4 linked regions of the Homo sapiens genome follow. The protein of the gene in region 1 binds, or shares a complex with, the protein of each later gene. Each region holds a gene or a part of one and is shown in the gene's direction. Other genes may lie near its edges. The genes, in order: RAB11A, RAB11FIP2, SH3BP5 and RAB3IP.

The links.
Region 2: the proteins of RAB11A (region 1) and RAB11FIP2 are in contact, whole or in part, in a crystal structure (PDB 2GZD), measured with the Homo sapiens proteins. Residues at the interface, in NP_004654.1 of Homo sapiens: Arg33, Ile44, Gly45, Val46, Glu47, Phe48, Ala49, Thr50, Lys61, Trp65, Arg72, Arg74, Ala75, Ile76, Ala79, Tyr80, Arg82; in NP_055719.1 of Homo sapiens: Glu478, Ile481, Asp482, Asn483, Leu485, Val486, Met489, Glu490, Pro493, Ser494, Leu496, Arg497, Val498.
Region 3: the proteins of RAB11A (region 1) and SH3BP5 are in contact, whole or in part, in a crystal structure (PDB 6IXV), measured with the Homo sapiens proteins. Residues at the interface, in NP_004654.1 of Homo sapiens: Tyr8 (codon at 4,642), Asp9 (codon at 4,645), Tyr10 (codon at 4,648), Leu11 (codon at 4,651), Lys13 (codon at 4,657), Glu35, Phe36, Asn37, Leu38, Glu39, Ser40, Ser42, Thr43, Ile44, Phe48, Lys58, Gln63, Trp65, Tyr73, Ile76, Ala79, Arg82, Gly83; in NP_004835.2 of Homo sapiens: Asp42, Ile45, Gln46, Leu49, Glu50, Asn53, Thr56, Ile59, Asn60, Glu63, Thr64, Glu67, Lys240, Tyr243, Leu247, Leu250, Glu251, Ile253, Ser254, Asp255, Ile257, His258, Arg261.
Region 4: the proteins of RAB11A (region 1) and RAB3IP are in contact, whole or in part, in a crystal structure (PDB 4UJ5), measured with the Homo sapiens proteins. Residues at the interface, in NP_004654.1 of Homo sapiens: Phe36, Leu38, Glu39, Asp127, Leu128, Arg129, His130, Leu131, Arg132, Ala133, Pro135, Thr136, Leu156; in NP_783322.1 of Homo sapiens: Asn367, Thr368, Leu369, Ser370, Ile371, Glu372, Pro373, Asp412, Arg424, Thr428, Cys431, Asn432, Thr435, Tyr439, Leu444, Val445, Lys446, Gln447, Gln448.

Annotation. Positions count from the first base shown.
Region 1 is NC_000015.10:65,864,966-65,872,490, forward strand, and holds the start of RAB11A (ras-related protein Rab-11A), read left to right. Parts: upstream 1-4,525; 5' UTR 4,526-4,620; coding exon 4,621-4,660; intron 4,661-7,525. UniProt on the Homo sapiens protein: The small GTPases Rab are key regulators of intracellular membrane trafficking, from the formation of transport vesicles to their fusion with membranes.
Region 2 is NC_000010.11:118,004,401-118,008,967, reverse strand, and holds the end of RAB11FIP2 (rab11 family-interacting protein 2), read left to right. Parts: 3' UTR 1-4,052; downstream 4,053-4,567. UniProt on the Homo sapiens protein: A Rab11 effector binding preferentially phosphatidylinositol 3,4,5-trisphosphate (PtdInsP3) and phosphatidic acid (PA) and acting in the regulation of the transport of vesicles from the endosomal recycling compartment (ERC) to the plasma membrane.
Region 3 is NC_000003.12:15,259,575-15,266,615, reverse strand, and holds part of SH3BP5 (SH3 domain-binding protein 5), read left to right. Parts: intron 1-2,117; exon of another isoform or gene 2,118-2,320; intron 2,321-4,326; coding exon 4,327-4,457; intron 4,458-6,033; exon of another isoform or gene 6,034-6,812; coding exon 6,813-6,855; exon of another isoform or gene 6,856-7,041. UniProt on the Homo sapiens protein: Functions as a guanine nucleotide exchange factor (GEF) with specificity for RAB11A and RAB25. Inhibits the auto- and transphosphorylation activity of BTK. Plays a negative regulatory role in BTK-related cytoplasmic signaling in B-cells.
Region 4 is NC_000012.12:69,790,840-69,797,880, forward strand, and holds part of RAB3IP (rab-3A-interacting protein isoform alpha 1), read left to right. Parts: intron 1-3,597; coding exon 3,598-3,675; intron 3,676-4,301; coding exon 4,302-4,505; intron 4,506-5,637; coding exon of another isoform or gene 5,638-5,763; exon of another isoform or gene 5,764-5,804; intron 5,805-7,041. UniProt on the Homo sapiens protein: Guanine nucleotide exchange factor (GEF) which may activate RAB8A and RAB8B. Promotes the exchange of GDP to GTP, converting inactive GDP-bound Rab proteins into their active GTP-bound form.

The DNA of each region.
Region 1 (7,525 bases):
CCCAAATTGCTGGGATTACAGACAGGAGCCACCATGCTGGGCCAAATTTCACTTCATAAGGTTTGTCAACTTTTCTCTCTCAAAAACATTTTTGTTTTTTTTTTGGAGACAGAGTCTTGCTCTGTTGCCCAGGTTGCAGTGTGGTGGTATGATCATGGCTCATTGTAACCTTGAACTCCTCGGCTCAAGTGATCCTCCCACCTCAGCCTCCTGAGTAGCTGGGACTATAGGTACATAGGTGCCATCATGTCTGGCTAATTTCTCCATTTTTTGTAGAGATAGGGGGGGTCTCGCTAGGTTGCCTAGGCTGGTCTTGAACTCCTGGCATCAAGTGATACTCCTACCTTGGCCTCCCAGGCACAAGCCACCATGCCCCATCTAAAAATTGTATTGTGAAATAAACCTAATACTATTACAAAAGTGCATAAAACTGGTATGTAGAGTTTAACACACAGTTATAAAGGGAACAACCCTGTAAAAATCCTTTGAGTTAAGAAATAGAACACTGAGGCCGGGCGCGGTGGCTCACACCTGTAATCTCAGCACTTTGGGAGGCCGAGGTGGGTGGATCACTTGAGGTCAGGAGTTTGAGATCAGCCTGGCCAACATGGTGAAACCCTGTCTCTACAAAAATACAAAAATTAGCCCGGTGTGGTGGTGCATGCCTGTAATGCCAGCTACTCAGAAGGCTGAGGCAGGATAATCACTTGAACCTGGCAGGCAGAGGTTGCAGTGAGCCGAGTTAGTACCACTGCACTCCAGCCTGGGCGATAAAGAGAGACTCCATCTTGAAAAAAATAAGAAAAAAGAAAGAAATAGAAGAGTGATAGGTTTATTTAACAAATGGAAGCCACTATGGAAGCTTTCTGTGTCAGGCCGGTGGCCCCCAGGCTCTGCTTTATGGGATACTGACGGGAGGAACGTCTGTCCCTGGGCATTCTTCCTGAGACCTAGGGAGTGAGTTCGCTTTCTTCAAATGAGCTAGGACAGGGAGGTGAGGATCATGGCACCCTGCCCCTTTCCCATCATAGGCTCTGGCCTCGCATCTGGCTAATTCTTAAAATAATAACTCATGGTTCTCAACTTTGGTAACTATTAACATTTTGGGCCAGATAATTCTTTTTGATGGGAGTGCTATCCTGTGTGTTGTAGAACGTTTAGCAGTATCCCTGGTCTCTACTAGATACCAGTAGCACTCCCAAGTAGTGACACTAAAAATGTCTCCAGATATTATCAAATGTCTCTGGGGACCAAATTGACCCGTTGAAAATCATTGCATTTGGCCAGGTGCAGTGGCTTATTCCTGTAATCTCAGCACTTTTGGAGGCTGAGGTGGGAGGATCGCTTGAGCTCAGGAGTTCAAGAACAGCCTGGGCAAAGATGGCAAAACCCCATCTCTACAAATAATACAAAAATTAGCCAGGTGCGATGGCGCACACCTGTAGTCCCAGCTGCTTGGGAGGTGGAGGTGGAGGTGGGAGAATTGCTTGAGCCCAGCATATGGAGGTTGCCGTGAGCTGACATCGCACTACTGCACTCCAGCCTGGGTGACGCAGCAAGACCCTGACTCAAAAAAAAAGAGAAAAGAAAATCAATGCATTCATAAATATTTATTATATGCCATGCATGATATTAACAGCTATACATTGTTACTTAATTCCTTCTTCCTGTTTGTCCCCATTTTGCAGGTAAGAAACTGGGATTCAGCAGGATTAAATTATTGAAATTGACACAGCTTTAGTGAATGGCTGAGCTGAAGTATAAACACAGACTTATCAGTCCTCACTTTGTTTTTAACAAACATGTAAAGTTACCTCCCCAGATGTGGAGGGTGAGATATATTTCAGGTCTTGCTTCTCCCCCATAGTCTAAGGCTAGGCATTTCTAAATTTATAATTCCAGGCTTTTTACTAGAGAGTTCCTTTTGATTTTCTTACCAACTGTACTAGTCAGGGTTCTCTAGAGGAACAGAACTAATAGGATAGACACATATATAAAGGGCAATTTATTAAGTAGTATTAAGTCACATGATCACAAGGTCCTACAATAGGCCTTCTGCAAGCTGAGAGGCAAGGAAGCCAGTGCGAGTCTCAAAGCTGAAGAACTTGCAGTCCAATGTTCGAGGGCAGGAAACATCCAGCACGGGAGAAAGATGTAGGCTGGGAGGCTAAGCCAGTTTAGCCTTTTCATATTTTTCTGCCTGCTTTATATTCGCTGGCAGCTGATTAGATGGTGCCCACCCGGATTAAGGGTGGGTCTGCCTTTCCCAGCCCATTGACTCAACTGTTTCTGCTTTGGGAACACCCTCACAGACACAACCAGGATCAATACTTTGGATCCTTCAATTCAATCAAGCTGACACTCAGTATTAACCAACACACCATTTTTATTAGTCATGCTTGAGACTAAATTAAACATTAGTGTTCTTTTTTTTTTTTTTGAGGAGTCTTACTCTGTCACCAGGCTGGAGTGCAGTGGCGCAATCTCGGCTCTCTGCAACCTCCATCTCCTTGGTTCAAGCAATTCTCCTGCCTCAGCCTCCTGAGTAGCTGGGATTACAGGACCTTAGATAAACTTACTATCACTTTATAGCAGTAGAGAAAGCACGGAAATTGGCACTGTATTTGTTTTCTATTGCTTCTATAACAAATTACCACAAACTTGGTGACATAAAACAACACAAATTTATTGCTTAAAGTTCTGTAGGTCACAGGTCTGACAAGTGTCTCATTGGGCTAAAATCAAGTTGTCAGCAGGGCTGTGTTCCTTCTGGGGGCCTTATGGAAGAATCTGTTTCCATGCCTTTCCCAGCTTCTAGAAGCCTCCAGATTCCTAGGCTCCTGGGCCCTTTCCTCCATCTTCAAAGCCAGCAAGGGCAGATTGAGGTCTTTTCAAGTCACATCACTCTGACCTCTTCTGCCTCCATTTTCCACTTTTTTTTTTTTTTTTTTGAGAACGAGTCTCTCTCTGTTGCCCAGGCTGGAGTGCAGTGGCGTGGTATCAGCTCACTGCAACCTCCGCTTCCCGGGTTCCAGCAATTCTCATGCCTAAGCCTCCAGAGTAGCTGGGACTACAGGCACCCACCACCACGCCAGACTAATTTTTTGTATTTTAGTAGCGACAGGGTTTCACCTTGTTGGCCAGGCTGGTCTTGAACTCTTGACCTCAGGTGATCCACCCACCTTGGCCTCCCAAAGTGCTGGAATTAAGGCCTGAGCCACCGTGCCCAGCCCATTTTCTACTTTTAAGGACCTTATGACAACACTGGGCCCACCCAACTAATCCAGGATAATATCCCTAATTTAATGTCAGCTGATAAGCAACCTTAATTTCATCTGTAACCTCAATTCCCCTTTGCCATGTAACCTAACCTATTCAGTCTCCAGGAATTGGGAAGTGGACATCATTGGCAGGGGGCATTATTCTGCTTGTTATAGGCATACTTGCCCACAAGTCTAAATCGAGAGTTTGCATATAGGAGGTAGGAGGTGTGACAATAATTGGATAAAGGCTTTTCTGGAATGACAAAATTCTCTTCAAATACAGGGAGGCCCTGCGACATGATATCTGGCAAATCACTTGAGTCTTAGTATCCAAACTTCCGCTAAAATGGAAATTACCATCCTTTGCTTGGCATGTTAAATGAAATACTTATGTAAACGGACTTAGATTAGAGGCCTACAAATAGGACTCAAGTTCTTGATGAATCTTGATGAGGAGGGTGGGCGAAGTACTCTAAATGAAAATGAGATAGATTGCGAGATTTCCGGAGAGGAGTGAGTGACAAGCGCCTACCCGTGCATGAAGCTGGAGGTAGAAAATTCCAGCAAAAGGAATTTTCAAGTTTCACTGAAGCTTTTGAATCAAGGCTTGAAAGCCCAGGGTTAAAAAAAAGGCAGTGAAGAAGCTCATTAAGACAACCCCCCGCCAGGTAGCAGATAGCACCTGAAATGCAGTGGGAAATTTGTGAGGTCTTCATAGGCAAGGATTAAATTTTACATCTCCATCTTAAGATGTGTCATAGTTGTTCAATTACTTAGTGACCAAAAAAGTGAATTAAAGATGTTGTCAAGATTAAAAAAACAAAAACCAATGCAGGTTCCACCGAGATTTGAACTCGGATCGCTGGATTCAGAGTCCAGAGTGCTAACCATTACACCATGGAACCGCCACGCATGTGTAGCTGCCTTCGGCTGTCTAATCCTCAGAGAACCCCGCCCCCATCCACAAACCCACCACTCACAGGCGGTCCCGCCTGGTTCCAGCGAGCCGCTTCCGGCACGGTAGCTCGAGAAATGAGCAAGCGGCCACTAAGACTATGGTAGCTAGGAGTTCCAGGACTCAGTTTCCCCTTTGAGCCTCCTTTAGCGACTAAAGCTTGAAGCCCCACGCATCTCGACTCTCGCGCACACCGCCCTTGTTGGGCTCAGGGGCGGGGCGCCGCCCCCGGAAGTACTTCCCCTTAAAGGCTGGGGCCTGCCGGAAATGGCGCAGCGGCAGGGAGGGGCTCTTCACCCAGTCCGGCAGTTGAAGCTCGGCGCTCGGGTTACCCCTGCAGCGACGCCCCCTGGTCCCACAGATACCACTGCTGCTCCCGCCCTTTCGCTCCTCGGCCGCGCAATGGGCACCCGCGACGACGAGTACGACTACCTCTTTAAAGGTGAGGCCATGGGCTCTCGCACTCTACACAGTCCTCGTTCGGGGACCCGGGCCACTCCCGGTGGACCCTCGTGCCGGCCACCCCTGCACTGATATAGGCCTCCCTCAGCCCTTCCTTTTTGTGCGGTTCCGTCTCCTACCCAGCTCAGCCTCTTCTCCCCCGCTCAGACAGGGGTCCCCATCACATGCCGCTCTCTGAGCGACCTCTCCATAGGCCTTCGCTGGCCTCAGAGCCCCTCCCTGCGTGTCCTTCCCCTGGCGGACTGCCTTCTCCCACATCGTCGAATTCCTTTCCCCGGGTTCTACGGCCCCGCCGCTCCTCCCACCATCTCTCTTTTCGGGTGTAGCGCCCCCTCCCCCTCGGCGTACACCCTTCCCAGCTCGCGTCCTCTCCCGAAGCCCCTCTGACGGGTTCTTCGCTTCCCTCTTGGCCTTGCCTTCGGTGCAGACTCCCATTACAGGTCTTTTTCTTATCTGCCCTCTTTCCCCCCTCGAGCGAGCGTCTCTTCTGTATCTCCCCTCCACTTGGACGGCCGCCCCTCTAAGCTTCTCCCATCCCGGGTCCAGGACCCCGTAAAATCTGAGCGGGCCAAGGGCCTCCGCCCCCACCCTCCGCCCCGCGGTTCTCGCGGTCCTTAACCTTCTCTGACCGCTCCCTCTCCCACTCCCCATTTGGCAACTCTCTCTACCTTCCCTCCCCAAATCGTGTTTAGAGCTCCCTTGTCTCCGTTGCGACCTGGGTGGTGGGAGGGAGGGTAAGAGGGATCGCCCATCACCCACTCGCGCACTTGTCGCAGTGACCCGGCAGGCTGACATTACTTCCCACCTAGCCTTTTCTTTTCTTGCCCTCCCTACTCAGTGGCACCCAACCCGGGATAACTCTTTACTCGGTTCGCGAGATGAGGTTGCGGATGGGTGGTGGCTGTTATCCTTGCCAGACCTGAAGGCCTGGTTCCTGAGCAGGAAAGGTTGTGCGCTGCACAAATACTAGCTTGCTTTATCTCTATGAACTGGTTGCTTCCTGCTGCAACGCTGGGAGGATCCAACAGGAAGGGAAGAGCCCTAGTTAGCCACATACCTTTCCCAAAAGGTTGGGGGTGGGAGGAAGTTGTGTGCTCTTTTGGTTACATTAAATATTTATTATAAGATACGGAAACATGTAGTGCCCTTGGACAGAACATATTGGAGGGTCAGGGTTGGTTAGAAAGAATTGCTTATTGGTTGAGTCCGGAAGGAATCCGGTTTTTTTTTTTAATCAACGAAGATAAAGGGTACATTTTTCAATGAGAAGAGAGTACAGTAGATGCTTTTTTTGTTCAGTGAATGCACTCTCACTCTGATGCTCTTTCTCTGCTCCTGAATTGGGAAGGTAGCCATCAGTAGTGTGCCGAACAAAGATCATTACCACTGAGGAAGAAGCCATTGCTATTAAAGCTTTACTGTGGAGGGTGGAGTTTCAAGAGTGTTAAGCATGGTGACTGTTTCTGTCTTTGCCATTGGGTGCTAAGAATGATTGACTAAACCAAGCAGGAAAGATTTCTTTGCTTTCCCAATACTTTGCAAATCTTGTTATACTAACTAGTCTGCTGTTATACTCTTATCATCTCTTACTCCTCTGACTCAGAATATTCTACTGTATAGGGTGAATACTTTTGGTATCCACCCTCCCCCTCCATACTGGAAAGTACTTTCAGGGTACTTAGTTCATTTTACAAATACAAAACTGAGGCCTGGATTACAAAAAGTATATGACAGCATACCTTTTGCCGAAGGTATCTGAGATGATGTGAAACTATTTGAATCTCTTGAGACTTTGGGGTTAAAGGTTAGGTTTGTGTTTTGAAATATGGTATAATGGTAGTGTGCTTTTATAAAGGTTGTCTTTGAAGTAATTAATTCAGAACAAGATAGACCGTCAGGGTATTTCTCCTGTTTGGTTTGAACTTGAATGTTGGTTATACAAGGTCCTTTTATTTTTTAACAAAGAATATTAAATATTCTGAATTGGCCTAAAGTATTTTAACTTTTTGATTAGACCATCCTTCTAGCAACAATTGAGAGCACTGAGCTTTGGAATCACGTAGACCTCGGTTTAGATCCTGACTCAGGTCTTATATTTACTTTATGACCTTGGAAAAGTTAACTTTTCTGAGTCTCAGTTCTCTACTTTATAAAAAGGAAAATACCTGCCTCTTAAGATTGTGAGAATTAAATAATGAGACTGTTCGTAAAATTTTAACCATGAGGACTCAATAAATGGTAATAATGTGAAAGAAGTTACTGTGGTTTTGTCAGTTTTTTTTTTTTTTTTTTTTTTTTTTTTTGGAGACAGGGTCTCGCTCTGTCCCCCAGGCTGGAGTGCAGTGGCACAATCAAGGCTCACTGCAGTCTCGGCCTCCTCAGGCTCAGGTGACCCCCCGACCTCAGCCTCCCTAGCTACTCTCTAGCTCCTAGGAGTAGCTGAGACTACAGGAGCGCGCCACCACGCCCGGCTAGTTTTTTGTTTTTTTGTAAAGACAGGGTTTTGCCATGTTGCCCAGGCTGGTCTCGCACTCCTGGACTTAAGCAATCCACCTTCCTCAGCCTCCCCAAGTGCTGGGATTATAGGCGTGAGCCACTGTGCCTGGCCTTTGTCAGTTTTTTGAACCTTAAATGTAGGTTCAACTACAAGAGCATTTAAATATTATTAAAGAAAATAAAACTAGGAACTTCGAATGCATTTTATGTTTCCATGGGTTATGGTTTCATTTTGTTGTGCATTTTGCTGTTTAAGATAGGGTGTTAAAAATTCTGCTAAGGAGGATTTCTACTTTTTTTTTTTTTTTTTGAGATGGTATTTCGCTCTTGTTTCCCAGGTTGGAGTGCA
Region 2 (4,567 bases), on another chromosome or scaffold:
ACAAAGAGAGAGAAAGAAAGAAGGAAGGAAGGAAAAACTTGTTACTGAAAGAGACTACACTATCAGGTTTCATTACATATTCTCCTTTATTGTGAAGAGTAGTTTTACCTGTAAATATTAGCAGGGACTATCAAGAGTGACCTTTGAAGCAAGCTAAATCATTTAAATGTTTAAATTGAAAATGGGCCAGATTCTCAATGAATAAGTGGTTCCTTAGGACTCACTCAGGTGCTGGTACTGACCCACTAATCTGCCATAGGCCCAGAAATATCTTCAGAAGTACGTGAGTTGTTCCTCAGGAATAGATTTTTCATAAAGCAGAATTGATCCTGTGGCTGGTTTCTCAGAAATCAGTTTGTAGAAATATTTAGCTTCAGGAATACTGCTCGTTATAAACACTACTAAAAAAACAGTTTATATTTTATATACACATATGTACATGAATATATATATATTCATGTATCTTGTATATAAAATATAGGCATATACCTCATATATACATGTGTTTTTAGAACATTTAGAAACAATTGATTGCCTCTAAAGTTAGGCTACCAATTTCTTGATTTGAAAATGTGTGTGCTCTATTGATGCAAGACAAGTCATCCTTCCTACTGTCATGGTTTGTTATAGAGAAGCTGCTTCAAATCACTCTTGACTACATGGACCTTGGTTTCAAAGTGAGCTGCTATATATTATTCTAGCATCAAAGTTTTTCTCTTTCCCCAAAAGTGATGATCTCAAGTCCTTTTTTAAAGAATGACAAATTTTAGGAGACTTCATTAACTTCATAACAGCATGAATTTATTTGAATTAATTAACATTTGAGTTTGTTTAAGGTATAAGCAGAAGATAAGCTAATATAGCTTGTTTTGTTGAAATTCTGCATGCCTTTAAATCACTAGCAAAGCAAATATTATAAAGTTATATCTGAAAATAATTGTGGGAAGTATGTGATTGCCTGGTGTGTCTGATAACCCAAAGCAGCGGGCAGATTCCAGGAATGAAGAATTAGGCTTGGTTTCAGGTTACATAAATAATAGAGCAGATGGTTGCCTTTGGGTCTTGAACCAAAATAAGACTTACTAAAGGAAGAGTGAGTTTTTAGAAGAGAACTTTACGAGCGTGACATTATGCATTACTCCACATCCACCCTTTAAGAATTGATTTATTACAAAATTATGTTCTATTTTAAAGTCCACTCCCCCAAAATACTGATTTCTTCCATGGATTATTTTTATATGATTTGTACAAATTTTTTCTGAAATTTAAATTGACAAGCAATGTTATAAAAATATTGCTAATCTTCTGCTTATTTTTCAGCCTTTAAAGTCTGAAATACTATAAAACACTGAGAGTATCTATGTCTTTCTGAATTTAAAATGAAAATTCATGTCCATATGGAGACTTACATATTCCCCAATCTTTCCATGAATTGCATTTTTTTCTAATACTTATCTCTGTTAAGACTCCATTGAAAGTTAAACAAAAAGCCGATATAATAGTTTGGGTTTTTTTTTTTTGCTTATTTTAGTATTTTGAATCAGAGAATACTTGGCCAAGCTCGTATTTGTAAACTAAAACCCCTTGTTATTTGTATCTTCTGCATTTCAGTTTTACTGTAAGAACATACATTTTGAAATTATGAACATTTTTTTCATAAAAATTAAATGCTTTAAGAAATGGAGAAGGAAAAATAGCTTTTATCAATTTTTTTCTCCTCAAGATTCTGTAATAAACCTCAAAGTCTGGTGTAGAATGGTATTTTCCCGTTTGAGGTCTTGGTAGTTTTTTTTTTTTTTTTAAACATGGTGCCACTTTTAATTAACTAAATGTTACAAAATTCTCAGCATTTGTTTTTGTCTGGTAGTATTATTGAGTCTTTTCATACACTTCTTAAAATGTGAAAATCTATGTTTTCAGTATTATGACAGTATCTGCAGATACTATAATAATATGCTTTGGCCAAATTTGCTGTTTATAGAGTGAACCAAGATGTCAGTTTTGTATTGGGGATATGTTTTACATAAATAGAACTCATTTAAAAGTATGGTTCAAGTACTGCTCTTCTTTTTATGGGGAAATTGATTTTTAAGGAGCGATTCTTTTCCTATATAAAAGCTATTGAGGCTTAGCTTTATTCATACATGAGTGATTTGGTTATAACTCAATCAAAATTTTTATCTTTAAATCTGAGACAAGTATTATATTTAAAACTAGATCTATTAATACATTCATCACTGCCTGAAAATTTGCTGTTCTAATGTTTGTGAATTTTCACTCATTACCTAGAGTAAACTTATTGCATATTTTCATAATCAGTCAAAATAATAAAACTAAAAACAAAAAGTAAAAATTAGTTCCCAAGTAAATATATCAGTGTTTCCTGTGTTTGGGCAGAAGTGCAAAGTAGTTTTAATTTCTCACGTTGTAGAAAAAGAGGCCAAAAAGGTCACCTTAGTTTATTTTTCCAAAACATAACTTTAGGTATTCTAATGTATTTTGTTAGTTGCTTAGAAATGGAAATAAAATATATGTGCTTATTAAATAATGCACAGTACACTAGATTATAGAGTTTATTTTTGCTTTTATGCTTTAAAGAATGCATGCCCAAAACACTACTACCAACAAGAGGATTTTTTAAAATCACAGAATTGATATTTATCTCAAGACTATCTTAAGCTAATGTACTTCTGTTACATAATTAAACTATTTCTGCTATTATTTTTAAAGCAGTATTATTTTATAACCAATTCTAAAATTCAGCTTTAAAAATATTGAACATACCTTCCTACCACTTACGCTTCAAGTTTCATTTATTGAATACCAGGGTCATATCTTAGAATTGTATATAAAACAACATGTAACCCATTCATGAAAAACGTTTTTAAGTATTGCTTTTTGCTGCTATGTTCTGCATTGAGCCTAGTTTTGCCATTGTCCCCTGAATGTAGTATTATCTATAGATTATACATAACTACATCTATTGCTTTTGGTGGTAAATCAAGATTTAGTTGTAATTTTCCAGCTGTGAAAATGTTGCCTTGTATTTAAAAGGGTTTCATGAATGGAAACCTAAGTAAAACTAAGCTCATTAGTGACAGACTTGTTTTCTTCTTGTTATTCCTCCAGCAACTCCCTCACCACCACGCCTCCCTGCCTACCATCCCCGGAAGGGTGCTTATTCTTTAACAAAGAGAATCTAAAAAAAAAAACAAAAAACTGTTGTCTAATATATCTACAGTAAATGTTACACTAGAGCTTTTATTTTCCTCTGTAGCTTTTCAGAAGAAGCAATTTACCTTGGATTTGTAAATCAAGCTGAAACTTTTTTGATGTTCATGTACTCATATGTCTTGTAGGTGGTAGGTGTCACTTGTGTGTATGTGTAAGTGAAGTATGATGCATGCTCATTCACTTGGTCCCTTTGAAATAAGGGAAAGGATCACAGTGCTGCTGGGCCATGATGGTATGTAGAAGGGTCTGTCAGCACACATGGAAAGCCCCCATTTGCACAGATGTAGAACTTTAATAATCCAGATGCAATCATTGGAAGTATTTAATATGCAATTGGTAGCACCTTAGCTAATTAATCTGCATATGAAGCATTTTCTGATATATTTAATAAGAGGTATAGAAGCTCTTCAAGCATTAAAATAGAGTTGATGTTTCATTCCATTTGTTTTATCCATCAAAAAATGCACTCTCACAGTGGAGTTGAAGTCTAATACATGATACATGTGGGCCTGTTAGTCTTCGAAGCTTCCAGATGGTTTGTGTTTTGAGGTACAAAAAAATGCTGCAGATCTAGAAATGCATATATTTAGCGGGTATTTGAAAGATAGAAGCATTATTTATAACTGAAGAGTATAACACTTATCTTCTTAAGTAAATGCTCTCATAACTTGTATACATTTTTGCAGGTACAAATTCAAAAGTATGTAAGCATTGTATAATGTGACAATTGTATAATTTATGTAATCTGATGCATGAATCAGAATTTTTATATAATATATGATTATTGACTTATAGTTGATTAAAGTGTTTAAACTTAATTCAGTTGTCAACATTTATTACAGATACAGCGGTGTTACCATAATGGATTTATATATGAGTCCTCCTTGTTTTTTAATAAATACCTAGGATGCCTCTTATTTGGTGTATTGTAGCACATATTCTGTAAGACCTACAAACTTATTTTACTATGAAGATAGTTCTGAAAAGTCATTCAAAAGAGTAGTTTTTAAGTACAAGTGAACATTCTTCAACAAATGTGTGGATGCCCTCTACATATAAGACATCCCCTCATAGGGATGGAGCTTACGATTTAGTAGAAATGATATTTGAGTATTTATATATAGGCTAAGGTCTCTGCTGAGTACTTCCTATTTATGCTTTATTTTATTTCTCACAACAACCCTGTAAGGTAGGGAATGCACAAGCTTTCAGAGGAAATGTAAGAAAACCTTTTGTGGTACTGAAGAAAGTAGAATAGGGTTGGTACAGCCGGTAGCATTTTTCACCACTTCTTATCCTCCAGCATCTACCAGAAGTCATTAATCAGTCACCA
Region 3 (7,041 bases), on another chromosome or scaffold:
CCAGCTGGGGAGCTTGGGCAGCATAGGACCCCTTCAGCCTCAGCTGTTTTGGCACTGAAGTAGCCTTTATGGGAAGGTGATAGCTTTTCATCCTCTGAGAGAGGAGGGCTGGCATCCTGGGAGGGAGAAATTGGCTTTTCTGATGTCTGCTGAAAGAGCTCAGACAGAGGAAGAGGGAAATGTGACTTGGAAATGAGAGGCACGAACTGTTTCTGAACTAGCCCCAGGTGGCTGCTGGAGAGGACACGACGCAGGGCCAGCCCTTCTCCTGGTTCACAGTGGATATGAGCCTGGGATGGCAGGTGAGGAGCTGCTCACGACAGCCTCCCTGACGTTGGTGGGTGTGAACCGCCTCCCTTCCACACAGTGGGAAGAAGCGCCTTCTTAGGTCTCATTGCCCAAGGACGCAGTAAGAATCAGGAAACAGTCTGAAACAGTCAGAATGGAGGTTCTCAGCAGACAGTGAGATTGCCTCCCTGGGCAAAGAGGCTCCTGACCGCCCCTCTGTGATGTTGGAAGAGATGTTGGGAGTGTAACTGAGGGTGCAAAGGCCCTGGAGATTGGAGAGTCGAGAAAGCTGTAACAGGAGGCTGAGGAGCTGTGCCTGGTGGATGTCTACTAAGCCGGTTGGGCCATTCTGCTGGTGTGGGACCCCGCGAAGAGGCTGGCCAAGCCAGATTGAAACACCCAATCAGTGCCCAGTGGTGCCCATGCGGGAAGGTGCCGGGTGTTTGCTATTTTCTGTGGGCTGATATGAGCAGGGTCCGGGGCTGAGCAGTATCTCTGTGGTCCCTGGATCTTCAGCATCTCCGGAGTATGCTGCTCCGGAGTATGGGGTGCAGTTTGCCACACCTACCCCTGAGCCGCTCTCCTCCTTACTTATCCCACCACACCTGACCCACATCACTGCACACAGCTCATGCCTGATGCTAGGCTGTAGATAGAGGAGCTCCTTGATTACCTAGGAGACATAACCAAGGCGACATGCTTAGTGACCTTCTTCCTCAAGGCAGGAAGCTGAGTTGTGTGGAGGTCTCTTCCAGGAGCTGGAGGGTTGTGTGTGTGTGTGTGTGTGTGTGTGTGTGTGTGTGTGTGTGTGTGTGACGGAGTCTCGCCCTGTAGCTCAGGCTGGAGTGCAGCGGCGCGATCTTGGCTCATTGCAACCTCCACCTCCCAGGTTCAAGCTTTTCTCCTGCCTCAGCCTCCTGAGGAGCTGGGACTACAGGCACCAACCACCACACCCAGCTAATTTTTGTATTTTTAGTAGAGACGTGGTTTCACCATGTTGGCCAGGTTGGTCTTGAACTCCTGACCTCAAGTGATCTGCCCGCCTTGGCCTCCCAAAGTGCTGGGATTACAGGCATGAGCCCCATCGCACCTGGCTGCCCTGGAGGTTTTGTATATATATGAGAAGTGGGGAGATAGGGACAGGATGTGGTAGACGTGGCCTGGTGGGGCGAAGCAGGGGACAGTGATGTGCTGGCCACTTCTTCAGTTTTCACTGCCAGTATTGCCATGGGCTCGGAGCTTTCCAAGTGTTTTATTGTAGAAAGCCTGTGCTTCTGCTTGCAGCCTAGAGGCCAAGATAGAATGAGGGCCTGTGTGCAGATGGTGAGAATCCTGCTTCTTACAGGGGACTCTTTCTGTACAGGACCCTCAAATTACAGGTTCTACAAGTCTGTTGAAAATGCATTCTGACAGCTCCTTAAAGGTAAACCTTTAATTGGATCTTTTTGTAATAAAACAATCACCCCCAACATGTTGTCTTTGATGAACCTGAAGGTTTGAGTTTTCATAAAGGTTATACCAGTAAATCCTTAAAGCTTAAGATTTACTGCTGTTTCCCCAAGTATCAAGCATGAGATATTTTTAGTGCATTTTGTTTCCTTGTGAAATATCTGGTTTTGGAAGCAAAGGGAAAGGATTCTCTTAGCCCTTTGGTCTTGGTTGAGAAGTCATGTGAGCAAGCATGTCTCCTCGTGCCAGCTTAGCTCAGTTCTCTCCTATTTTTCTTCTCTGATTTTGTTGTTTTTCTGTTTTTAAAAATTATCTGAAGCACTGAAGCCTTTGTTAAAAGATATTTTTAAGAAGGTAAAAGCATAATTGGGATACAAATATAAAATTTTCTCGTGTCAAATATTTTATTTCTCTCATTAAATAAGGAGGGATCTAACAGTGATGTTACAATTCTTGAATTCAAAAAATACAAACTCATAGAAAACCAAGAGTGCCTCAATGAATTACCAACAGATGCAAAATGGACTATTACAAGGGCAGTCAGTAATCCACTGCATCTGTGACACAGTTCATCTTCATTTCTCTGGAAAAAAAAAAAAACCATTTGTATTACTGTCAGTTTTCTACAACTTACAGGGTTGTAAAACAGCTTCAAGACAAAGTCAGAGATAGCCTGGAAGGGTGCCCTAGACAGGACACCCTGTAATTTTTAATGCCCATATAAAAGTCTTTCATAATTTTTCATGGTACCTTTAAAAATCCTTATCGTAAGTAATAAGTAAACTATCCTAGGGCTGATTGTGGCTGTTGACTGGAGGAGATGGTAGAACATTGGCAACCTTCCTCTGTGGCCTTCTTTTTTAACTGTGAACTAAAGACATGGTGGTACCTCCCTAAAATTGTTCTACGGGGTCTGAGAGAGCTGACTAGTGACCATGAGCCCTCTGGGCTCCTCTCGGATGCTCCCCAGAGAATACAGAATTAGAGAATAACCCTTTAGCCTAACCTCTACTGTCTCTCCGGTTTATTTTATAACACTGAGTGGTAGGCAGAAGACAGGGAAAGAAATCGCAAGCTGCTTATGTGGCCTGAACTGCGGTTTGTTTCCCTCCTCTTTCTTCAAGGCAGGCCTTGTTCTGATGCTTTTCTGTAGGTAAGCAAGGAGAGAATTAACATTGCCCATGTCTCTGGGACTGGGCCTGTGAGCTGCTTTTGTTTTTTGGCCATTGAGGGCCCTTGAGTATTGGTTTTGTAACTCATTTTTTTCAACAGACTTAACAAAGTGTTCCCACCAGAATTTCCCACCAGAACTTTGACTTGTCTTCTGCTCACAAATGTTTGTGTACCTCAAAATCTGATGTGAATGACTGGGTTTTAATTTAATTGCTTAAATGTAAAGTTTGCCCTTTCTGGATCCTGAGTTCTTCTGTGCACAGCCAACTAGTTCAGAATATTTGGGAAAGGACCAAACAATGGAAGTCATGGCTGCTTTGCTGGCTTGACTGCCATCGTGCCTGGCACGATGCCTAGTTCTTGGTTTTGGTGGTCTCCCCATTAGGTTCCCCATCTCTTAGGTTCCCACTGCTGCTATTTGGCCATTTGCCTGCCCATCAGGCCCCTGCCCCAAGGTGTGAACGGGAGGAGGTCTAGGTGGCTACTTAGATCGAGGAACCTGAGAAGAAAGTGGACAGCTGTTGAATCAGAAAATAGTTCAAAATTTTCTGGTTTTTGTTTTTCCATTTTCTTTCTCAGTCATTGCCACAGCCAATTTAGCTATTTAATCTTTCCTCACAAGGCTTTTTCAAAATAGATAAATAGGAAAAGAAAACCACTGTTGGGAAGTTGGTTTATTCTTAGTCTGACCACTAATTTGCTCAAATATATATCTAGATATAGATATCTATATATACATATATATTTTGAGATGGAGTCTTGCTGTGCTGCCCAGGATGGAGTGCAGTGGCGTGATCTCGGCTTACTGCAACCTTCATCTCCTGGGTTCAGGTGATTCTCCTGCCTCAGCCTTTCAAGTAGCTGGGACTACAGGCATGTGCCACCATGCCTGGCAAATGTTTATATTTTTAGTAGAGACGGGGTTTTGCCATGTTGGCCAGGCTGGTCTCAAACTCCTGACCTTAGGCGATCCACCCACCTCAGCCTCCCAAAGGACTGTGATTACAGGTGTGAGCCACCGTGCCTGGCCCAAAGAGTATTTTTATTTTTGAGACAGAGTCTCACTCTGTCGCCCAGGCTGGAGTGCAGTGGCACGATCTTGGCTCACTGCAACCTCTGCCTCCGGGTTCAAGTGATTCTCCTGCCTTAGCCTCCTGAGTAGCTGGGACTACAGGAGCACACCACCAGGCCCGGCTGATTTTTGTATTTTTAGCAGTGACGGGTTTCACCATGTTGGCTAGGATGGTCCCGATCTCCTGACCTCGTGATCCACCCACCTTGGCCTCCCAAAGTGCTGGGATTACACATGTGTCACCATGCCCGGGCAAAGAATATTTTTTGAAAAATAATATAAGTAATATTCCAAGCCTGGGCTGTTCTGGGCTGGACTGGGCTGAACTCTGCTGTCATTTTAAGGTCATGGAGGCGGAGCAGACCAAGACCAGGAGCGAGCTGGTGCATAAGGAGACGGCAGCCAGGTACAATGCCGCCATGGGCCGCATGCGACAGCTGGAGAAGAAACTCAAGAGAGCCATCAACAAGTCCAAGTAAGTCTGGACAGGGCCTTCCCTGGGGCCGTGCGGCTGTCCTAGTCTGCATCTTCTCAGCCTTTTGTATGTCACACACTCAAGGACCACCCTGAGTAGTCCTTTGATGTAGACCCTGGGGCCTCACCAGAGCCCCCCTGCTCAGGCTCTCTTTCCCCCTAATATTCTATGACCCCCAGAAGCAGAGGATGCTAAGGGGTGGGCTGCTCTAGATATGACTAAGTTAGGAAACACAGAAAAAGGAATTTCAAAGGCACATTATTAAATGGCCCATTGGCTGGGATTTGGTAAATTCACGCTGTACTCTGGGATCTGTGGTTGACAGTGTTGTCAAGGCCCTATCCCTCAATTTATCTGTCAGTGTAATAGGGATGAGTTGTGTTCACAATACATGTTTCCTGTGATCAAGAGCTGATAAAATGCTGTAAGACTGGCTTTAGTAGAGTTTTTTTTTTTTTCTCCAATCTCTTCTCACTACAGCCCTGTATATTTTTATACAACATTGATAATGGTGGGCAGGCACAACTGTGTACCCTCTCTTGGGGACAAGCCCCCTGCTTCATTCCCAATTGCTAGGCCTCCTAGCAAAAGGAGGAGGACTTATGATGACCTAGACTTAACAGCCAAAGATAGACCCAGAGCAGGCTGTGCAGGGCTACTGAATGCCTGTTCTCCAGGTGTGGTCACAGCCCCAGCCAGGAGGGGCTGGGCAGTTGGAAGCTTGGCAGATGCCCAGTCCTCATGCAAGTGAGGGAAAGGTGACAATTCAGTGAGGAAGAGGATCTGCAAGGAAGAGTTTGGTCCTCCTAGGCTCTGTACTACCCCCCAGTACCTTCACCCAGGCTTGACTTTTCTTTAGTTTCTGCTCACACTCTTCCAACATACATATGTACACATACATGCAGAGGAACACCATTTAACCATTTACTATTGCACTTAATTGACTAGTGTATTTTTGTTTTGGTTTGGTTTTTGGTGTGTCAGGGGCTGATCTCCTGAGAGCTAAGTAGTAGACGTGTATATGGCATTTTTCTGCAGGGGAGGCAGGAGGTGGCGAGGGTTGTTGTAGGACCTGTGCCTGCTCTGGGCAAGCCCAGGCATCATCCACATGCCAACACCCAAGGAGGCCGAGGAGCAGCCTTTGATGCTGCTTCCTTTGGTGTGAATATGGTGGGTCTTTTCTCAAAAGACCCCGAATTCACACTGCACACACATCACATACTCATCCATTAACCTGTTTAAGAAAATAAATCTTGTGATTGTACTTTGCCAACCTTTTCAGACTCCGAGAAGAGTACAGGGATAGATCGTAGTCTTGGGTGGCTCCTGTCTGCCCAAAGGTTAAAATGTACATCTGTGCATTCCACAGAGTGGCTTCCAGGCCACCTCCATGCCCACCCTGCCTCTCCAGCCACACTCCCTTGCATGGATGCTCATGTTCCTTTTGCTGGGACATCTTCCCTGTGCCCTCCGATGCCCATTCACACACATACTCTTCACCTTGTGCTCCTTTTGGTCACACGAGAGAGCTTATACACCTCTCTCTCCCCCCAAATTTCAGGATTTTCATACCCACCAATGGCAGTCCTGTGTCCTTGTCATCCATCTGGATCCTCAGGATGCAGGACTTGAGAGCTTCATGGAGGGTGAACAGCTCAAGAATAAAGCAGTGATCTACTCTTAATGTTCAGGCACCAAAGTTCCTAAAAAAGAGCCAAGCTCTTTCAGCTGACCCAGAACCAAGGGAACTGCTAGGACGCTGGCATTTCTTGGGCCCATTATGTGGCTGAGTCAGCCAACTAATAACTCCAGTCTTTGGACAAGGTTTGGGAGGACCAACCTGAGACCCCCTCCTAGTGGTGGCCTTGCTGTGCTGTGAGGGAGGAGTGGTGCTTCTCTCTCTTCCCCAGTTGACTTCAGTAGAGGAGGAGGTTTAAGCAGCCCCTTCTCCAGCCTCAGCTGCTCTTCATCCCTGGGGAGCCAACTTCATTAGGAGAGCAGATCCAGGCCACCCTTACTGCTGGGTATAACCTGTGAGGCTCTGAACAGCCTTCCCACAGAGGAGGAACATGAGCTAAGTTGCAGAGTCCCCAAGATATGTGTGTGTGGGTTCCCCGTGTCTTGAGATGGGCCTCCTGTTAATATAGCCCTGGGTGAGCCCAGTCGTTCCATCTGGTGTCTGTCAGTCTCCAGAGCTAGGAGCATCACTGACATGTCACGGCCTTGTTAAGAGTTTACTAAATATTGGAAGGACGACCTGGCCAGTGGTAGCTGATGCCTCTTGTTCATCTTGTGGAGTTGACTGTGGTCACTGTATTATATTACTCTGATGGCTTTCCTTCCTGTCTTCTGCAGGCCTTATTTTGAACTCAAGGCAAAGTACTATGTGCAGCTCGAGGTATGTGTAGCTTTGGGCTTCGTCACTGATGAGATTTTTCTGCACTCAAAGCTTCACTTTTCTGGGGTAGCAGAGTATCACATGGGCCACTTGCTATAAGGGGAAAGTGGAGAGACAGGCTTTACTGAGTTTTCAGACCTCAAAATTGTCTCGGTTGGGTCTTCAGTGGTCTCTGAACCTCTGTAA
Region 4 (7,041 bases), on another chromosome or scaffold:
TCCCAAAGTGCTGGGATTACAGGCGTGAGCCACTATGCCCAGCCCCAAAGTAATCTTGAGCAAGAAAAATAAAGCTGGATGCATCACACTTCCTGATTTCAAAGTACATGACAAAGTTACAGCAGTAAAAACAGTATGGCACTGATATAAAAACAGACATGTGGACCAATAGAAGAGAATAGAGAGCCCAGAAATGACACATTTTTGGTTAGCTGACCCTCAACAAAAATGCTAAGGACACCTAGTGGGGAGTAGATAGTCTTATCAATAAATGCTGCTGAGAAAATTGGATATCCACATGCAAATGAACGAAATTAGACCCTGATCTCACACCATAAAGAAAAATCAATTCAAATGGATTAAAGACTTACACATAAGACCTGAAACTGTAAACTCAGAAGAAACAAGGAAAAAGCTTCTTGACATTGGTCTGGGCAGTGATTTTTTTGGATGTGACACCAAAAGCACAGGCAACAAAAACAAAATGGACAAGTGGGAGTACATCAAACTAAAAAGCTTCTGCCCAGCAAAAAACAGTCAACAAAATGAAGAAGCGGCATACTGAATGGGAAAACATTTGCAAACCGTGTATCTGATAAGGAGTTAATATCCAAAGTATATAAGGCATGCAGTAGCAAAAAACAACCCAATTGAAAGATGGGCTAGGGGCCTAAATAGACATTTCTCCTAAGAAGACATACAAATGGCCAACCGGTATATGATAAGATACCCAGCATCAGTAATCATCAGGTAAATGCCAGTCACTCCCCAATGAGATAGCACCCCACACTGGTTAGAATGGCTATTATCAAAATACAAAAGATAGTAAATGTTGGCAAGGATGTGGAGAAAAGGAACTTGTCCACTATTGGTGGGAATGTAAATTGGTACAGCCATTATGGAAAACAGTATGGAAGTTTCTGCTCAAAAAATTAAAAATAAAGCTACCGCATGATCCAGCAATCCCACTTCCAGATATATATCCAAAAGAAAATTGCTATCCTGATGAGTTATCTGTGCTTCCATGTTCATTGCAGCATTATTCACAGTAGCAAAGTTATGGAAACAAGTTATATGTCTATTGATGAATGGATAAAGAAAATGTGGGGGGTATGTGTGTGTATATGAATACTACTCAGTCTTAAAATGGAAATCCTGCCTTTTGCAACAACATGAGCGAACCTGGAGGACATTTTGCTAAGTGAAATAAGCAAGACAGAAAGACAAATGCTACATTATCTCACTTATATGTGGAATCTAAAATAGTCGAGCTCATAGAAGCACAGAGTAGATTGGTGGTTGTCAGGGGCTGGAAAGTGGGAGAAACGGGAGATGTCGGTCATTGGTACAAAGTGTCAGTTATGCAGGATAGATAAATTCTGAAGACCCAATGTACAGCACGACTATATCGTATGTTACAAATTTGCTAAGAAGGTAGATCTTGTTTGCGCACCACCTCCCCTCCAAAAAAAAGGTAACTGAGAGGTGCTGGATATGCTAAAAGAAAAACAAAATGATATGTATATTTCAGTGTTCATAAATATTTATTAAAACAGCCACACTAATTTGTGTATTGTCTATGGCTGCTTTCATATTGCAACAGCAGAGCTGAGGAGTTGCAGCTGAGGCTGTATATGTATACATAGTGTTTGACTCTTTACAGAAAAAGTTTACCGACTCCTGGTATAGGTGATACTTACATCATTTTCAGCTTTGGAAGGGCAGTGTGATGGAAAATTTTCAAACTTTTTTTGAGTCTACCTTTTGATGTTTTTTGTCAATTTTTAAAAAATTCTGTAAAAATTCTGCATGTCATCTTTTTAGCAACTGATCCTGCCCCAGTCTAGTGCTCATCTTTCCTTTTGGGGCTCCAATTATATGTATGTTATACCTTTTCACTGTAACCCTTATGTCTGTAGTGGAAAAGTCACCTAAAATTTCACATTACTCTAAGTTTACTTCACTATTTTGTTCTCAGATACCTTCAAACATATTTTAAAAACAAACAAAAAACTTTTCTAGCTTTTCTAATCGTTCTCCGTTGGAGGTTTGGTACAAATTGCATAATCCACTATTAATGAAAACAGAGTCCATTTCCAAAAATTTAGTCAACTATTCTCTCCATAGTATGAATTACTTTTTCATTTAAAGTTAAAATGTTACTTATCTTGAAGGGTCAGATTAGCTGTGTTTATTATTTTTAAAACATTGCCAGATAGTTTTGTGTTGACAGCCACTTGTCCCAGAAAAATTCAGCAAATCTGAAACATTTGTTATTTTTAAAAGGAGAATATTTAACTCATTAAATTTGACAGCTCTTAAGGACTTTGCCAAGATAGCCAGAATAATAGTGCATGGAATATCTTCATGGTTAATATCATTTTGCTATAAATCATTGATAGTAAAGATTCTCCTATTTAAACTAGTATAAGCTGCAAATTCACATTCATGGGCACACACAAACTGCAGTGTTACAATACTGTAAAAGCTAATGAACAAACGGGAAACAAACAGTCAAACTCTGATGTAAAGAACTTCCACCTTTCCATTCTACCACTGTGCATTTTGACAGATCTAGTGAGGGTGCCATTGTCAAACTATTCATTAAATATCTTTGAAGCTCATTTCCTTCCTTCCTCTGATAAATTGTAAACTAAAGTTCTAAAATGTAAGTTCTTAAATCTCGGGGCACTATCTCAAGCACCCTATATATGCTTCCAGTCCATTCTTAATCCCTTACAGGGATTATTCTATACAAGGGCATAATCTTTTAAAAATAAAATGATCATGTCTTCCTTAAAAAAACTGTAAGGCTTCATATTGCATTTAGAATAAAACCCACAATTCTTATTCCGATGTTTTATTTGGTTAATACATATAAACAGAATGTAAGCTCCTTAAGAGCAGGGACTTTGTCCTTTCCCAGTACGTAATCAGCATCTGGAGCAGTACCTCACAAGGAGATGACATGAGTAAATGTCTCATGAATAAACATTATATGAATAAAAAGGAATTAAATACCTAGAGTTTCATATTTGTGGTACTAGAAGATTAAAACTCTATTAAAGGGTAAACTGATTTGCCTTTTTAGGTTGCTCTTCACAAAATTGTCACATAATAAAATTTTGGGAATGTTTTTATTGAAAGCTCTAAGGCTTCTTAGCTGTCATTACTATAAACTGCAACATTATTGGTGTGTTAATGTTTTTACTTGTCCCTCCTGTATGTCTTTGCTTTGACTAATAAGAACATATATAGTGACCACATTATAAAAAGCTGACTGCAAAGGAGTTGGCTTTGACACATTGGTCATTGTTTGCCTTCGTCACATTCACAGTCCTTACGCAAGTATCTATCCGGATGATTGATCTCAACTTGGCTGCCTCAGTGGTAATAGGTCCTAAAAGAAGGCACCTATTCCTAATGTCTCATAGTTTGTCTCTGTTGTCAACTGCTGCTTCCATAGTTGACATTGAATACTTAACTTCAGGCTAACTTTTGGTAGTATATCTTTGCTTCAATTGTAAACATTTGGCAAGAACTTTTTGAAAACAAATGCTACTTTGTTTCTAAAATTTGAGATGTTAACTTTTTCAGGAAGCTCATAAAATGGTGAGAGAAGCAAATATCAAGCAGGCAACAGCAGAAAAACAGCTAAAAGAAGCACAAGGAAAAGTGAGTTTTTGCAGCTCTTAATAGTATAAAATAAATTTGTGATAACTGTTTTAAAGATACCTTAACATCTGTTGGATTTTGTTCTGATCGTAAAGTAGTGCTTGTTTTCAATTTGGAAACTACAGAAAAATAGAAGAAAATAGCTACTATGTAGGTATAATTAATAGTAAACATTTCGTGTCCATTTATATGAGAACCAAATGATTTAAAACCTTGTAAATCACATGAATTATCCAAAGGATTATAGAATCACATTTTAATGTTAATACTTAGTTTTTAAATTCACTGAGAAAAGCCACCTAAATGTTATTAGATTTTACTGTTTTAGGAGTGAACTTCTACAACTAATCATAAGCTATTATATTTTGAGGATTTTGAAAATTCACATAAATGTTAGATATTTTGGTAATTTTCACAGGCTCATTTGACGTTGTTAATAATAGATGAATCCAAACCATATGGAAACATCAAAAAACTTGATTTTAGTTTCTTTTTATTACTCCACAGGAAATACAAATTAAACTTACTTTTCATCTTTGAAAGTGTTTTGACCAGATTGCTAATATTTAGCTGCATATGTCATGAAACGTATTTAATGTATGTGACTATGTTGATTTCTTTCCAAGATTGATGTACTTCAAGCTGAAGTAGCTGCATTGAAGACACTTGTATTGTCCAGTTCTCCAACATCACCTACGCAGGAGCCTTTGCCAGGTGGAAAGACACCTTTTAAAAAGGGGCATACAAGAAATAAAAGCACAAGCAGTGCTATGAGTGGCAGTCATCAGGACCTCAGTGTGATACAGCCAATTGTAAAAGACTGCAAAGAGGTAACTCATCAAGGACTGTCCCCTCTGACTCTGTTGATACTTGTTAGTTCTCATCACTGAGGTGTCAGTTATCATTTTTGCCAGCAAAATTTTTAGTACAAAATAATGCAGTATTAAGATGGGGGAGGCTTTATCTAGAGCTGGCTGCTTTCAGGGATTCTTCAGTTCCATTTTCTACCTGGCTGACCTTGGAGTACCTGCTGGAAACTTGGTAAGTTTCTTAATCTCAGTATTTCATTAAGGGAGGAAACTGTCATGTGTTGTCTAGAGGAGAGTGGGTGGCTTTAATGATCTGGCTAGTCAAAATTTATTGCTAGAGTGCGCTTACAAAGTATGGATATAAGAAATATGTGAAAATAAGATGATTTTCTTAAAGATCAATACATTGCTTTTATTTAAATTCAGAGAGAATTTTATGTCAGCAAGGGAGTCCTAGAGTTAATTTAGATAATTAAGCAACAAAAAAATAGAAATAATGGTAGCCTTACAATGACATAAGGCTGGAAGACATTTTGCTAAGTGAAATTTCAAGTTATAGTAGAACAATTAGTGTCATTTTTGATCCCAAATTAGGTTTCACAGTTCAGCCAGTCTGTTATTCAGACACTTACAACTATGTAAGGCCACCATTATCATGTATCCATAACAATTAAAAATTTAAAAACGAAATAATGGGCCGGGCATGGTGGCTCATGCCTGTAATCTCAGCACTTTGGGAGGCCAAGGCCGGAGGATCACCTGAGGTTGGGAGTTCGAGACCAGCCTGACCAACATGGAGAAACCCTATCTGTACTAAAAATATAAAATTAGCTGGGCATGGTATCTCATGCTTATAATCCCAGCTACTCAGGAGGCTGAGGCAGGAGAATCCCTTGAACCTGGGAGGCGGAGGTTGCGGTCAGCTGAGATTGCGCCATCACACTCCAGCCTGGGCAACAAGAGCGAAACTCTGTCTCAAAATCATAATAATAATAATAGTCTTATTTTAAAAGATATGTTACAAAGATAACTGAAATAATATATAAATATTTTGAGCTGTTTAGAGTAAAAATTTTTAATCATTGTATACTGTGAGAATGCATTTCTAAGAGGATTGATCAATAATTTATGAAGCTTTCCCATTTCTTCTTAGAAGCCATCTTTTACATTGTTAAATTCAAGTCCATCATTAATCTTGAAGAAATGTGTGTGCTTGTTAAATTTTTGTATGGAAGCCAGGAGTTTATTAAATGGAATAACCAATGTTAACCTGTTTTAATTGAATTGCATTTTGACGAATTATCAATAAAAATGATGCTGGTAAGAGAGAAGTTCAATACTTGGTTAAATCTGAATGTAACCAAATCCAAAATTCACATTGGTTTCTGTTAAATATTTAAGAAACTTCTTTGTCCTAACTTTAATTCTAATTCTTTGGAATTTAAATAGCAATTTTAATTGCCTGGTACAACTTGTATTTTTGGTGTTTCTTACTCAGTATGTGTAAGTAATTATGTACTTTCCCCCCTATTTACACTAACAAAATTATAAGTGTCTTCTCATGGAACATGGTAAAGATTCATTTTTAGTTTTTGAAATCCCTTAAAATGTGCATAGGCAGCATATAACTTCAAAATAATAACCTTTGCTCTTCAGGTACGTGTTATAGTCTGATGTTTCATGAAAAACTTGTCAAAAAGTCTTACTAGGCAAAGGAATTACATAAATTTGACCTGTGTAAGTCTTAGAAAAATATGTAACAATCTGGAAGAAAATTAAGCATGTCCGTGTTTTTGTAGAAAATATGATGGGGCACTCAGTTATGACATTAGCAACATGTCTTCTGTAAACATTTAAAATACACATGCATGCATGCAGACATACATGCCCAGTGCAAGGCTTTGGGATCAAGCCACTTAGATTTGAATTCGGACTTTACTGCTTTCTTGCTATGCAATCTCCGGCAAATTACAAATGGCAATCATAATATCTGTCTTGCACAGTTGTGAGGATTAAATGCTTGTAAAGTGCTTACGGTGGTTCCTGGCAGAGTCAGCTCTTAATAAATGGTTTAAATTACAGCCTTTAAACTAGAATCTTTCCTTAGAATACCACTTACCTGCTTTGGGGTTTATGTCCTTTTTCTTTTCTTTCTTTTTTTTTTTTTTTTTTTTTTTAATAAATTTGCATCTTTCTTTTTTTTTTAATTATTGTTATACTTTAAGTTTTAGGGTACATGTGCACAATGTGCAGGTTAGTTACAGATGTATACATGTGCCATGCTGGTGCCCTGCACCCACTAACTCGTCATCTAGCATTAGGTATATCTCCCAATGCTATCCCTACCCCATCCCCCCACCCCACAACAGTCCCCAGAGTGTGATGTTCCCCTTCCTGTGTCCATGTGTTCTCCTTGTTCAATTCCCACCTATGAGTGAGAATATATGGTGTTTGGTTTTTTGTTCTTGCGATAGTTTACTGAGAATGATGATTTCCAGTTTCATCCATGTCCCTACAAAGGACATGAACTCATCATTTTTTATGGCTACATAGTATT